Regions from separate parts of the Homo sapiens genome. Here region 2 is linked to region 1. A link means that fine-mapping ties the variant in region 1 to the expression of a gene that starts in the linked region. Tissue or cell type: whole blood. Region 1 holds a variant in brackets; the other region holds the start of a gene. All regions are shown on one strand. Distances are between the middles of the regions.

Evidence for each region. PIP is the estimated chance that this variant, and not a neighbour inherited with it, causes the effect.
Region 2: it holds the start of GAA, and the variant in region 1 is fine-mapped to the expression of GAA in whole blood (TwinsUK, PIP 0.95).

Annotation. Positions count from the first base shown.
Region 1 is chr17:80,275,023-80,283,006 of GRCh38, reverse strand. All of the region lies in intron 3 of RNF213 (ring finger protein 213), which reads right to left. Among named protein-coding and RNA genes, the nearest start is that of RNF213, 18 kb to the right of the region's middle. RefSeq lists an enhancer at 4,367-4,985. The variant C/T (reference allele first, on the strand shown) is at 3,822.
Region 2 is chr17:80,099,168-80,104,304 of GRCh38, reverse strand. GAA (alpha glucosidase) reads right to left here and starts at 2,724. Exons shown (of 20, transcript NM_000152.5): 1 at 2,415-2,724. It overlaps CCDC40 (coiled-coil domain 40 molecular ruler complex subunit), which reads right to left. Exons shown (of 20, transcript NM_017950.4): 20 at 3,692-4,778. The coding sequence ends at 4,530. RefSeq lists an enhancer at 2,118-2,227 and a silencer at 2,558-3,177.

The DNA.
Region 1 (7,984 bases):
ATTGAATCAGGCCAGGCGTGGTGGCTCACACCTGTAATCCCAGCACTTTGAGAGAACGAGGCGGGCGGATCACCTGAGGTCAGGAGTTCGAGACCAGCCTGGCCAACATGGGGAAACCCCATCTCTACTAAAAATACAAAAATTAGCCAGGCGTGGTGGCACACACCTGTAATCCCAGCTACTCTAGAGGCTGAGGCAGGAGAAATCACTTGAACCTAGGAGGCAGAGGTTGCAGTGAGCCAAGATTGCACCACTGCACTCCAGCCTGGGAGACAGAGCAACACTCTGCCTTGAAAAATAGTAATAATAGGCCGGGTGCAGTGGCTCACGCCTGTAATCCCAGCACTTTGGGAGACCGAGGCGGGTGGATCACAAGGTCAGGAGATCCAGACCATCCTGGCTAACACGGTGAAACCCCATCTCTACAAAAATACAAAAAAATTGGCTGGGCGTGGTGGTGGGCGCCTGTAGTCCCAGCTACTCGGGAGGCTGAGGCAGGAGAATGGCGTGAACCTGGGAGGCGGAGCTTGCAGTGAGCCGAGATTGTGCCACTGCACTCCGGCCTGGGCGACAGAGTGAGACTCCATCTCAAAAAATAATAACAATAATAAATAAAAAATAAAAATAAAATATTGAATCAAGCTGGTATACAGTCGGCCCTCTGCAGCCACAGATTCAGCCAACCACAGACAGAAAATACTGGGGAAGAAAACAGAAAATAACGAGACAACAATAACAAAGAACACAAAGAGCAACACCGCACCGTGTAGCAACTGTTCATACAGCATCTATGTCATACAGATGCCTGTGGTAAGGAATCTAGAGATGAATTAAAGTGCATGGTGTCGGGGGCCGGCCTCAGTGGCTCAGGCCTGTTATCCCAATACTTTGGGAGGTCAAGGCAGGCGGATTCCTTGAGGTCAGGAGCTTGAAACCAGCCTAGCCAACATGGCAAAACCCCATCTCTACTAAAAATACAAAAATTAGCCAGGTGTGGTGGCAGGCGCCTATAGTCCCAGCTGCTCGGGAGGCTGAGGCAGGGGACTCGCTTGAACCCAGGAGGCGGAGGTTGCAGGGAGCCGAGATCACGCCATTGCACTCCAGCCTGGGCAAAAGAGAGAGAATCCGTCTCAAAAAATAAAAAAAATAAAAAATTAAGTGTACAGGCGGATGCTGTGGGTTATGTACCAATGCCACGCCGTTTCATATCTGGGACTGGGCATCCTTGGATTTTGGCGTCCTCCGCGGTCCTGGAACCGACCCCCTGTGGGCAACAAGGGACCACTGTGTGTTTCAGTGTGAGTATGAGATGGGTGTGAGTGGGACTTGCGTATGTTGGGGTGTGTGTGAGTGGGGTGAGTGGGGAGTGTGTGTTGGGGGTGTGTGTGAGTGGTGTGAGTTGGCTGTGTGTGTTGGCAGTGTGTGAGTGGTGTGAGTGGGGCGTTTGTCTTGGGGGGTGTGTGAGTGGTATGAGTGGGGCATGTGTGTGTTGGGGTGTGTGTGTGAGTGGGGTGTATGTATGTTGGGGGGTGTGTGAGTGTTGTGAGTGGGGTGTATGTTGCAGGGTGTGTGAGTGGTGTGAATGGGGTGTTTGTCTTGGGGGTGTGTAAGTGGTGTGAGTGGGGTGTGTGTGTGTGTTGAGGTGTGTGTGAGTGGGGTGTGTGTGTGGGGGCGTGTGTGAGTGGTGTGAGTGGGGTATGTGTGTGTGGAGGGTATGTGTGTGGGGGGGAGTGTGAGTGGTGTGAGTGGGGTATGTGTGTTGAGGTGTGTGTGAGTGGGGTGTGTGTGGGGGTGTGTGTGAGTGGTGTGAGTGGGGTATGTGTGTGTGGAGGGTATGTGTGGGGGTGTGTGTGAGTGGTGTGAGTGGGGTGTGGGGGTGTGTGTGAGTGGTGTGAGTGGGGTATGTGTGAGTGGGGTATGTGTGGCGGGGGGTGTGTGTGACTGGGGTGAGTGGAGTGTGTGTGTTTTACCCAAATGCTGAGCCCATGGTCTAGACACCCCACTTTCCACACCCGTGTATACACCCTGACCAACACGCTCCGGTCCGCATATGCAGTGCCCTAACTCCAGCTCACATCTCATGCTCCGTGCGCATCCCCAGGTCGCGCCTCTGTTACTCCGTGGGAATGTTTCCACCCGTGTACGTTGACAGCTTTACTATAAATCTCCCATCCATTTCTCCTCCTCACATCTGTTAAGTATCCTCACCAATTTATAGTTTAAAATCTGTCAACTTCCAAAAATACAAAACGAGGCTAGGGTGGTGGTTTATGCCTGTAATCCCTGCACTTTGGGAGGCTGGGGCGGGAGAATTGCTTGAGCCCAGGAGTTTGAGACCAGCGTGGGTAACACAGCAAGACCCCATCTCTACCAAAAATTTTAAAAATTAATTGGGTGTGGTGGTGCACGCCTGTAGTCCCAGCTACTCGGGAGGCTGAGGCACGAGGATTGCTTGAGCCCAGGAAGTCAAGGCTGCAGTGAGCTATGATTTTGCCACTGCGCTCCAGCCTGGGACCCAGGGCGAGACCCTGCCTCAAAACAAACAAAAACAAAACCCACCAAACCCATTCAGAGCTATACTACTGTTATACATTAATTAGTTGGTTAAGTTCCCGTGTCATTCTGGGTGACAGCAGACATCTCTGCAGTGCTAAACCTTCCATGTTCTCTCTGGGGAAGGGCCCACCTCTCCACGGACTTCACTGTCTGCTGAGCCCGAGCCTTCTTCTCCTCGCATGGCCTATGAATCCATCCTTTATTTTACAAGTTCCTTCTCACATTTTTGTTGCTATTGTGAATGAGCTCTCCACCCACACTGTGCCTTAGGTCTGGCTAAGTCCAGCCCCGTGTGGACGCTGCCTGCATTTCCCAGGAGCTGCAGGAGTGGGCTCACGGCCAAGCCCCAGCCCACAGAGGAAAGAGCATGCCTGCCTTGAAGGCTTCTGCCTACACTTAAGACCTAGGCGTGGTGGATGCTCGGTAAGTCTCCGTTCAATGAACACATGACCATCTCGATGGGCAGGGGCTGGGGGGAGCGCGGTGCGGGGAAGGCAGGGAGGCCGTCGCCCTCTGCAAAAAAGTAATAAACTTCACAAGCATCACTCTTCAAGGTATGAAGCTCCCTTGCTTTTCCCCAAAAGCAAAAGTCCTTTCATTACATGTGTTACCTAATTTCATTTTTGATATTATTAGTGAGTCCTGTAATACTCCTAAATGCTATAGAAAAAGTCAGGATTTGGGGCAGGCACAGTGGCTCACGTCTGTAATCCCAGCATTTTGGAAGGCCAAGATGGGTGGATCATTTGAGGCCAGGAGTTCGAGACCAGCCTGGCCAACATGGTGAAACCCCGTCTCTACTAAAAATACACAAAAAAAGTAGCCGGGCGTGGTGGCAGGTGCCTGTAATCCCAGCTACTCAGGAGGGTGAGGCAGGAGAATCGCTTGAACCCTGCACGCGGAGGTTGCAGTGAACTGAGATCGTGCCACTGCACTCCAGCTTGGGCGACAGAGCGAGACTCTGTCTCAAAAAAAAAAGAAAGAAAGAAAGAAAAGAAAAAGAGAAAAAGTCAGGATTTCAACTTCCAAAAACCAGAGACTAAACTGAGCAGGGCTTCCACTACACCCCCACGTGGCGAGCGCCATCCAAGACCTTGTGTTCAGGCAGAGGCTGGGTCGGGCCCCCACCTGCCTGGGCCTGGCCCTCTAAGCCCCCTTGGGCTCCCCTGCTGCTCTCTGTGGTGAAGCCTGTGTTGCTGGTGGAGCTTTAGCCAGGTGAGTGCAGCCAGGTTAAGTTTCTCCAGGTGTCCAAGGGGACAGCTGCA[C/T]GGAGTAAAAAGGCAAGTGGAAGGATGTGGGCCAGAAGGGCAAGCACAATAAAGCTGAAATTCACCACTAGCAAAACATCCTCAGAGTCACAAGAGCCAAGCCTGAATCAGCGTTGCTCTTTCACAGCCCAAGGGTGACCCGAAAACGCCCATCCTGGGCAGCCTTCCTCGACTGGCAGGGACTCAAGGGCCGGAAGTGCGAGGTGGCCGTGCCAGGCTGTGCCAGCATGCACCAGGGCAGGGAGCATTCTGCCCAAACTATTGACTCGGACTACCTGCTCACAGTCTGCAGAAGGCACGCTGGCGGCCTCAAGCGGGGCTGCATCCTGCTTCCTTCTCTTGCTGGGTATGGCATTAGCAGCTTCCCATTCATCGGATATGAGGTCTACAGCAGCATCTACCAAAACCTCTGATGTAGCTCCCTGTTGAAACACGACCCCCTTCAGACAGGGCAGGGCTGTGCACCCCACGCACAGCTCCAGTAGACTCGCAAAGACCCCACCTCAGGGGCCACCTCCTCTTGGGAAGGCCCAGGCAGGGACACCCACATGTGGGCACTGACCAGCTTCCCAGCACCGTCTGCCTCCAGGGCCCATGGGCAGGAGGGTGTGGGAAGACGAAGAAGCAGCTCCTGCAGACGTGCAGGACAAGTCCACGTAAGAGGAGAACTGCCCACACCAGAGGCGGCACCCTGCCAGGCTCACGGCACCCTGCCAAGCTCCCAGCACCCTACCAGGCTCCCGGCGCCCCGGGCCTCCACACGAATGCCTTGGCTTGTGCTCAGAGCACAGATGCACTGCAGAGACCGACCCAGAAGGTATAGGCAGGCCCGGGCACCCCAGGGCCAGCCAGGCCAGGCCTCCCAAGCCCCTAGAGGCGGAGGCGGGCAGTCTGGCCCTGTAGCGGGCATGCTCATCCGACACCTCCCTTCCACACCACACCGGGCATCGCCGGGAGACCTCACAGCAAGACGCCCAGCAGGAAGCTGAGGAAAGGAAGCTCCACCAGCAGCCTCCTGGCCTGCCGATGCCTCCAACCCAAATGACCCCTGGCTCCGGCAGTCTCCTCTTCCCTCACCACAGGAAGTACAACCCAGCAGCCAAGCCCAGTAGCCTCTCCAGAGGAAGAATGCACAAAGGACACCCTGTTAGTCAGCAACCAGCGGCCACCAAAGGAGAGGCCAAGTGGAGGATGGCTGTGCCAAGGGACAGGCGCGGGCCCCTCTCTGTGCGCCCTTTCCCTCTCCACCCACCCCATGACTGCAGGTGAGGACTGACCACCTGACTCTGCTGCAGGGTGAGGCTGGCCACGCAGCTCGCTGTCTCAGCTTCTGGGGCCGCCTCCCTTGGCTCCTAGCACCCTCCTCACCATGGTTAGAATGCGGCGTCTGCGCTTAGAGCACCGTTCACGCATACACTGCTCTCAGCTTCAGAATTCAATAGGCTCCCTGTGGGATTGGGAAAATGCGCAAAAGCCCCTGTAAACTCATCACCAGAGACAACCCATCGGCATTCACCTGTGTATTCACTCTGAACTTCTCTCATGTGTGGATATGTGGATATTTAGGCTTTTTTTTTTTTTTTTTTTTTTGAGACAGAGTCTCACTGTCGCCCAGGCTGGAGTGCGGTGTCTCAATCTCGGCTCACTGCAACCTCTGCCTCCTAGGTTCAAGCAATTCTCCTGCCTCAACCTCCTGAGTAGCTGGGATTACAGGCAAGCACCACCACACCCGGCTACTTTTTGTATTTTTAGTAGAGACGGGGTTTCCCCATGTTGGTCAGGTTGGTCTTGAACTCCTGACCTCAAGTGATCCACCCGCCTCAGCCTCCCAATGTGCTGGGATTACAGGTGAGAAGCCACCGGGCCTGGCCCTAGTTCCCATTTTCTTCATCCCAGAAAGAAATCCCACAGCAATGACTCCCTCCTCCCCACTCCTCCCAGCCAACCACTAATCTGTGTTCTGTCTCCATGGGTGAGTCTATCGTGGATATTTCATATCAAAGGAATCATACATGGCCTCTTGTATCTGGCTTCTTTCATTTAGCATGTTTTTGGGGTCCATCCAGGCTACAGCACAGATCCATATCGTATTCTTTTTTTGTTTTTTTTTTGGTTTGTTTGCTTTGTTTTGAGAGTGAGTCTCGCTCTGTTGCCAGGCTGGAGTGCAGTGGTGCGATCTCGGCTCACTGAAACCTCCCCCTCCCGGGTTCAAGTGATTCTCCTGCCTCAGCCGCCCAAGTAGCTGGGATTACAGGCATACGCCACCACGCCCAGCTAATTTTTTTTTTTGTATTTTTAGTAGAGACGGGGTTTCACCATGTTGGCCAGGATGTTCACAATCTCCTGACCTCGTGATCCACCCACCTCAGCCTCCCAAAGTGCTGGGATGACAGGTGTGAGCCACCGCGCCCGGCCTAGGATAATTTTATGCGTAACTTTTGGATCAACTGCCTTGCTGCTTCCTTAACGGCTGCAGCGTTTAACATTTCCACCAACACTGTACAACACTTCCAATTTCTCCACATCCTCATCAACATTTCCTATTGTCTTTCCTTCCTTCCTTCTCTCTCTCTCTCTTTGAGGAAGGATCTCACAGTCACCCAGTGAGCCACCGCGCCTGGCCTCTTTTATTGTTCTCTTGTTCATGTCGGTTTTCTCTTGTTCAAGATTCCCTAGAAAATGTCTTCATTCTTTTCACATCTTCTGTGTCAACTCTACATTTTACAAATTCAAGCAGATTTCCACTAGTAAAAAAATTTAAAACATTAAAAAATAAATAAAAAATAGGGCAGGCGTGGTGGCTCACGCCCGTAATCCCAGCACTTTGGGAGGCTGAGGTGGGCAGAGCACCTGAAGTCAGGAGTTCAAGACCAGCCTGACCAACATGGAGAAACCCCGTCTCTACTAAAAATACAAAATTAGCCAGACATGGTGGTGCATGCCTGTAATCCCAGCTAGCTGGGAGGCTGAGGCAGGAGAATCGCTTGAACCCGGGAGGTGGAGGTTGCTGTGAGCCAAGGTCACGCCATTGCACCCTAGCTTGGCAACAGGAGCGAAACTCCATCTCAAAAATAAATAAATAAATAAATAAAACAAAAAATAAATAAATAAATAAATAAATAAAGTCTATGTTCCTTTGGCTTGTTGCCAATTAGTAGTTTGATAGAGATTTCCTTAAACACCTACAGCCAAAACATGGAAAAGAAAAAAGAAAAAAAAAAACTGGCCAGGCATGGTGGCTCACGCCTGTAATCCCAACATTCTGGGAGGCCGAGGCGGGTGGATCACAAGGTCAGGAGATCGAGACCATCCTGGCCAACATGGTGAAACCCCGTCTCTACCAAAAATACAAAAAATTAGCCAGGCGTGGTGGCGGGTGCCTGTAGTCCCAGCTACTCCGGAGGCTGAAGTAGGACAATCACTTGAACCTGGGAGGCAAAGGTTGCAGTTGAGCTGAGATGGCGCCACTGCACTCCAGCCTGGGCAAAGGAGTGAGACTCCATCTCAAAAAAAAATAAAATAAAATAAAGAAAAAATAATACTCTCTCAGTCTCTGTAGACTGGCCCTGAGTTGGGACACTCCTCCCACACTCAGCCTTCCTTCCAGCCTGCACTGAGGTCTTCTCAGGTCTTTTTCGAGTGCGTCCTGCTCGAGCATTTGTGTGGCTTTCTAGATTCCTCATTATTCATGGAAACTTTTCAAAATTTTATTCCCCCAAGTAACTCAATTCTTAGCTTTTCCTCTGTCTTTGGGCGGGTTTATTGTTTGCCCCAGATGGCAAAGGGTTTATTCATTTGCCTTCAATGTTTTCAAGGAACACCATCCGTACTGCCACTTTCCCACTCTGACAGAGTTCCAAATTAGGCATAAAAAGGGAGTTACCCAAACCTTCCGCATCCCATGTGCTCCAGGCTTGGGGGTGGCCTTGGCTGCTCTGGAAGGGATTATTCTCCAAGGGAATGACACAAGCACACACACACCCCACTCCCACACACCCCAACATACACACACATCCCACTCACCCCACACACACTCCCAACACACACACACCACTCACACACACCCAACACGCACACACCCAACACACACACACCCAACACACCCCACTCACACACCCCCAACTCACACACCAACACACACCCCCAACACACACACACCCCAC
Region 2 (5,137 bases), 180 kb after region 1:
TAGAATGTCCCCAGGAAGACCAGCAAGGCAGGTAGACACTTGAAACAGGCCAAACAGCTGTCGCCTGGGCCAGAGTGCTGTGGTGAGATCCTGGCTCACTGCAACCTCCACCTCCCAGACTCAAGCAATCCTCCCACTTCAGCCTCCTGAGTAGCTGGGACTGTAGGCACACACCACCGCACCCAGCTAATTTTCTGTATTTTTGTAGAGACGGGATTTTGCCATGTTACCCAGGCTGGTCTCGAACTCCTGAGCTCAAGTGATCCACCCCCCTTGGCCTTCCGAAGTGCTGGGATTTCAGGAGTGACCACGCCTGGCTGGGAGCCCCACTTCTGCATAAAGGTGCGGCTTGGTCCACTGGGTGTCAGCGGAAGTGATTCTGGCAACTCGTATGTCCTTAGGGGGACCCAGTACCTTTCCTTGCTCCCTTTCCTATTGACTGGTGCACGGACATACCACAGTGGGGAATCCTGGGCACCGCAGCTGAGGGTGACACTCCAGGGGTGGCAAAGCCACAAGAGAGAAAGGACTTAACCTCTGGCGACTTTGCAGATCAGAACCCCTCCCGGCCCCCGAGGTACATGGGGAAGAAACACAGTCTCTGTAACAGTGGCTGCACCTGGAGCCTCGGGTACAGACACAACAAGGATGTCGCGTGCAGATGAGATATGGGGGTTCGCTTTCATTATTCTGCTGGTAAGGTTAACAAGTACCAACGACCTTTGTTTCGCTTCTCTGTACATTAATATTTTATGGCAAACATTCTATTAGCCTGGCTCCTCCCAGGAGCAGCCGGAACCCACATGCGATTCAATATGCATGGATTTCAATAGGGGAGTCCCTTTGGTGTGTGTAATACACCATGGGGAGGGCGTGGGGAAGGCTGGGAGAGCCACCGCACCTAGGCAAGTCTGACCCCAGGGAAAGGAGGAAGAAGGTGTCCTAGGAGCAAGGCCATGGGGGAGGGATGCAGAGAGGTCCTCAAACCAAAGTCAGCCATCAGAGGGGTCTGCGTCTCTGAGGAACGGGCCTTGGAGCAGAGGCAGGCAAGGATTTCAGAAAGCAGCCCCTGGCCAGTGAAGCTCCTTGGAGCAGAGGACTGTGCAACCTTCTCTGGTACTGGGAGCTGGTCACATACCAGGAAGAAGTGAACTCAGGGCCCGAGGGAGTCTGACCTGTCATGTCATGTTACAGAAGGCTTGGCTGGGAACGCTCTGCCCCCGGCCGGACGTGGTGTTCCACCGTGGGCCACTGGTAAATTAGGGCTCTCTGGGCTGGAGGGTGAAACATTTTACCCACACTTCTGACATTAAATGTGTAGGGTTTTTCTCACACCCATCAATTCTGCAACTTTCTGGACACGGCTGGGTGTCCTACAATTCAATTCAATCTTGACACTACCTGGAGTCAGCACAGACTCCACAGGTTAAGGGCTCAGTCCCACAACACTGCCTTCACTTCAGAGGCCAATGGCAAATCCCAGGTTGTCACTTGTACTTTCGATCAACTAGTTATAAATTCAGAGGTTCCCAGGACTCCCTCTTCAGGGTCACAGAACTCAGGAAAGTGCGTTTCTTACAGTTGCTGGTTTATTACAAAGGATAAAACTCAGACAGCCGTATGGAAGAGATGCGTAGGGCCTGGTGTGAGGTGGGGGCAGTGATGCTGTGCTCTCTGCTCGCACCACCCTCCAGTGCCTTGGTGTGTTCCACAACCCGGCGGGAAGCCCTCTGATCCCTGTGGTTTCTTACGGGGTTCCATTGTGCAGGCATGGTTGACTAAGCCACTGGTGATTCACTCAATCTCCAGCCCCTCACCCCTTTTCCATCCCAACCCGTCATCAGGCCTTGGTCTTTCTGGCCATCTGCTTCCATCCTGAAGCCACCTGGTGTCCCCGGTCATCAGTCACCTCATGAGCAAAAGGCTCTCTCATCACTCGGTTTCCAAGGGTTTCGGGTGCTATGTGCCAGCAACCAGGGACAAAGACCAGAGACAGTCACCCCTGGCCTGGCCTAAGGGGGTCTTTGTGATTGAGACATTCAGATTTCAGAGCTGGCCCAGGGGCCCCCTCTCAGGCCACGGTGCTCCTCACCCCAGGGATTCAGACCCAGCCATGTGCGTCCTGCAGGAGCAGGAGAGGTGGCTCGGGTCCCGGCCAGGACTGAGCACTGCGTCGATCAAAAGGGGAAAGGAAACCCTAGAAACGGGAAGATGCAGCCTCCAGCCCCAAGCCCAGCACAGGAGGGCGGCTCCCCGTTCATCTCTAAGCTGAACTCAGATAAAGACCGGGAGGACTAGAGGTCTGGGGCTCAAGCTCCGCTCAGGGGAAGAGGCTGGGGGCACGGCTAGGCACGTTCAAACCCGCTTCTGGGATGTTACCGCCGGCAGCGCGGGGCAGACGTCAGGTGTCTCACCCGCTCCGTGCCTCAGTTTCCCCGTCAGCTGCGGCACGCGCAGAGCCTCCCTCGCTGAACAACGGGCGGACGAGGAGAACCTAGAGGTGGCCGGGGTCCTTCGCGTCACCGAGGTCACTGTCCTACCTGCTGCCTCATCCCCGACCTCCACCCGCGGCCCCGGCGACAACCTCAGCTTTCCCAACTGAGAGGCCGCGCGGGCAGCCGACCGCCCCACCGACCCGGCCCGCGCTCAGGGAAGCCCCGCAGCCCCGGCCCGGCTCACCTCCGCGCACGCGCGCCCTGGCCGCCCGCGGAGACTCCGGGGTCGTGCCCGGGGGCGCGCAGAGGCGGGTCACGTGACCGGCGGGAGCTCGTCGCGGGGCGGGGCCGCGGTGGGTCACGTGACGCGGCCTCCCGCGCAGGCGCCCGAGGCAAGGGTGCGCGTCCGCGCTACGCCCCCCAGTGGCGGCTCCGGCAGAGCGGGCCTGGGCGCGTCCTCGCTCTCGGAGGGGGCCTGGGGAGCGCGTCTGGCTGCGCGTCCGGCGTCCCGCGGGGAGAGGCCCACGCGTGCTGCCCGCTGCCGGTTCCTCTGGGGTCAGAGACGGGGCGAGGCCCCCGCTGGCGCAGTCCCGGCCCGGTCCCCGTGGGGTCGGAGATGGGGCGTGGCCCCCGCTGCCCCGGCCTGGGTCCCCGCAGCTCGTAGGGCTTTGTAAGGGGCTGGCCCAGCCGCGCCTTGCGCCCAGGGATTCCTCCTGCCAACGCGTCCCGAGGGCATCATCGGAAAGGCGGCCAAAGGCGCTCAGCGCCAAGTTAGAAACAGCCAACATTTGGAAAGTCCTTAAGTGTGCTCCATAACTCACAGTTATTCCAGAAAGGAATAATCAAAACATTGTGATAACCCATAAAACTGACAATTGAGAAAACATTAAACTGACACAGGGGGAATTTTTTCATAAAATGAGAAAATGCTTACATTAAGAGGAGCACATTTTTACATGTGAGATACAAAAAACACACAGTATAACCTTAACTTGCCTAATAAAATGTATGTGCAGAAAAATACAAAAGGAGCCACACCAAAACACAGAGGTGTTGTTCCTGGGTAGGGGCATAGGGGCATTAAAAGCCCCCTTTCCAGCTTGCAGCGAGCCGAGACCGCGCCACTGCACTCCAGCCTGGGCGACAGAGCGAGACTCCGTCTCAAAAAAAAAAAAACAAAAGCCTCCCTTCCACCTCTGTTGTGGTTTCTGTATTTCTACAATGTTTTAAAATAAGTAAGGCTGACTCAGAAAGGCTTACTAGATATTCAGAAAAAAGATTTTATTCTTCTGCTGAAATGTTTGAAAGTGAAATTATTTTGTAGAGCATTTTCCCTTTAAACTGCAAAGAAGCCCCAAGGTCATTGGTACTTGGAAGTCCAGGGAGAAAGAGCGCTGGGTTAATGATGGAGAAAAGATAGGTGGGCAGACTGGGGCGTAGTCCCTTGGTGTGGACGCCCCAGCGTGCTCTTATTTCAGTGCTCACCCTGTTACGTGTGTCTGGGGCCACTGACTTTCTCCTGCAAGCTGTGGATCTGAATTTAACTCAAATGGGGACATGGGGGCAGGAAAAGGGACCTGAGAGTTCTAAGGGGTGGGGATGGGAAAACTGGTAAAGAAGGTGGTTTGTGGGTTTTCAGATGCACCTAGTAGAGGGAAGTGCTGGGGGGACCAGCCTCCCGGGCCAGGCTGGCTGGAGCTGCCTTAACTTTCCCACCTCTGCTCAGCCCACCAGCTTGTGGACCTGTGGCAGCGTTGTGTTGTGAGAGGCACGTGCAGATTTGGGAGTGCTGCAAACCAAAGTGTTACCTGGACGAGTAAGCCCAGTGTGGGAGTGTGGGTGTGTGGGTCTGCAGTCACAGGCTCTGTCTTTGCGATGGGATGCCATGGGAAACGCTAGGATTTTACCTGGTTTATTAAATTGCTGAGTGGCTAAAAAGATTCCTATGGGTGGGGCTGGCTTATTTCTCTTAAACGATGCCCTTCTGAGGGTACATGTGGTTTTTAGGAACACAAAAGATTCCAAGTCCCTCATGACAAACACAATTCCGGATCTCTTCCTGGAGGCCTTGCAAGGCGGAGTCCAGGCTGCTCCCTAGGAGGGCCCTGGTGACTCGAGCTTGTTGGCGATCATCTGGCTGACCTTGTGCAGGGCCTCCTGGAACTGGGGGTACTCGTCCCGCACGCGGTCCAGGATGGTGGCGATGAGAGCCAGTCGCTTGTCCAGGCGCTGGCGCTCCAGCACTAGGGACTGCTTGGAGCGGAACAGGAACACGTAGCGCCCCTCCTTCACAGCCTGCAGGTGCTTAAGGCGTGTCTGCAGGGCCACGATCTCTGAAAGGTTCTGGGTAGGAAAAGAGACTCCATATAGGGCTATGCAAACCAGAAGAAAGACACCTGCTGGCCCCCCACAAACTCAGATTCCAGGAAATGCCGAAGAGGAGGCGAGACCTACGCCTGAAAAGGGACGGCGTGAAGGTGTTGCGCCCCTGGATCTCAGGGAAGAGGCTGAGAGGCACTGGGTCGGTGCTTTATGGGTCACCCATCATCACCATCTAGGAGGCATTCTTTTTTTTTTTTGAGATGGAGTCTTGCTCTGTCGCCCAGGCTGGAGTGCAGCGGTGCGATCTCGGCTCACTGCAAGCTCCGCCTCCCGGGTTCACGCCATTATCCTGTCTCAGCCTCCTGAGTAGCTGGGACTAC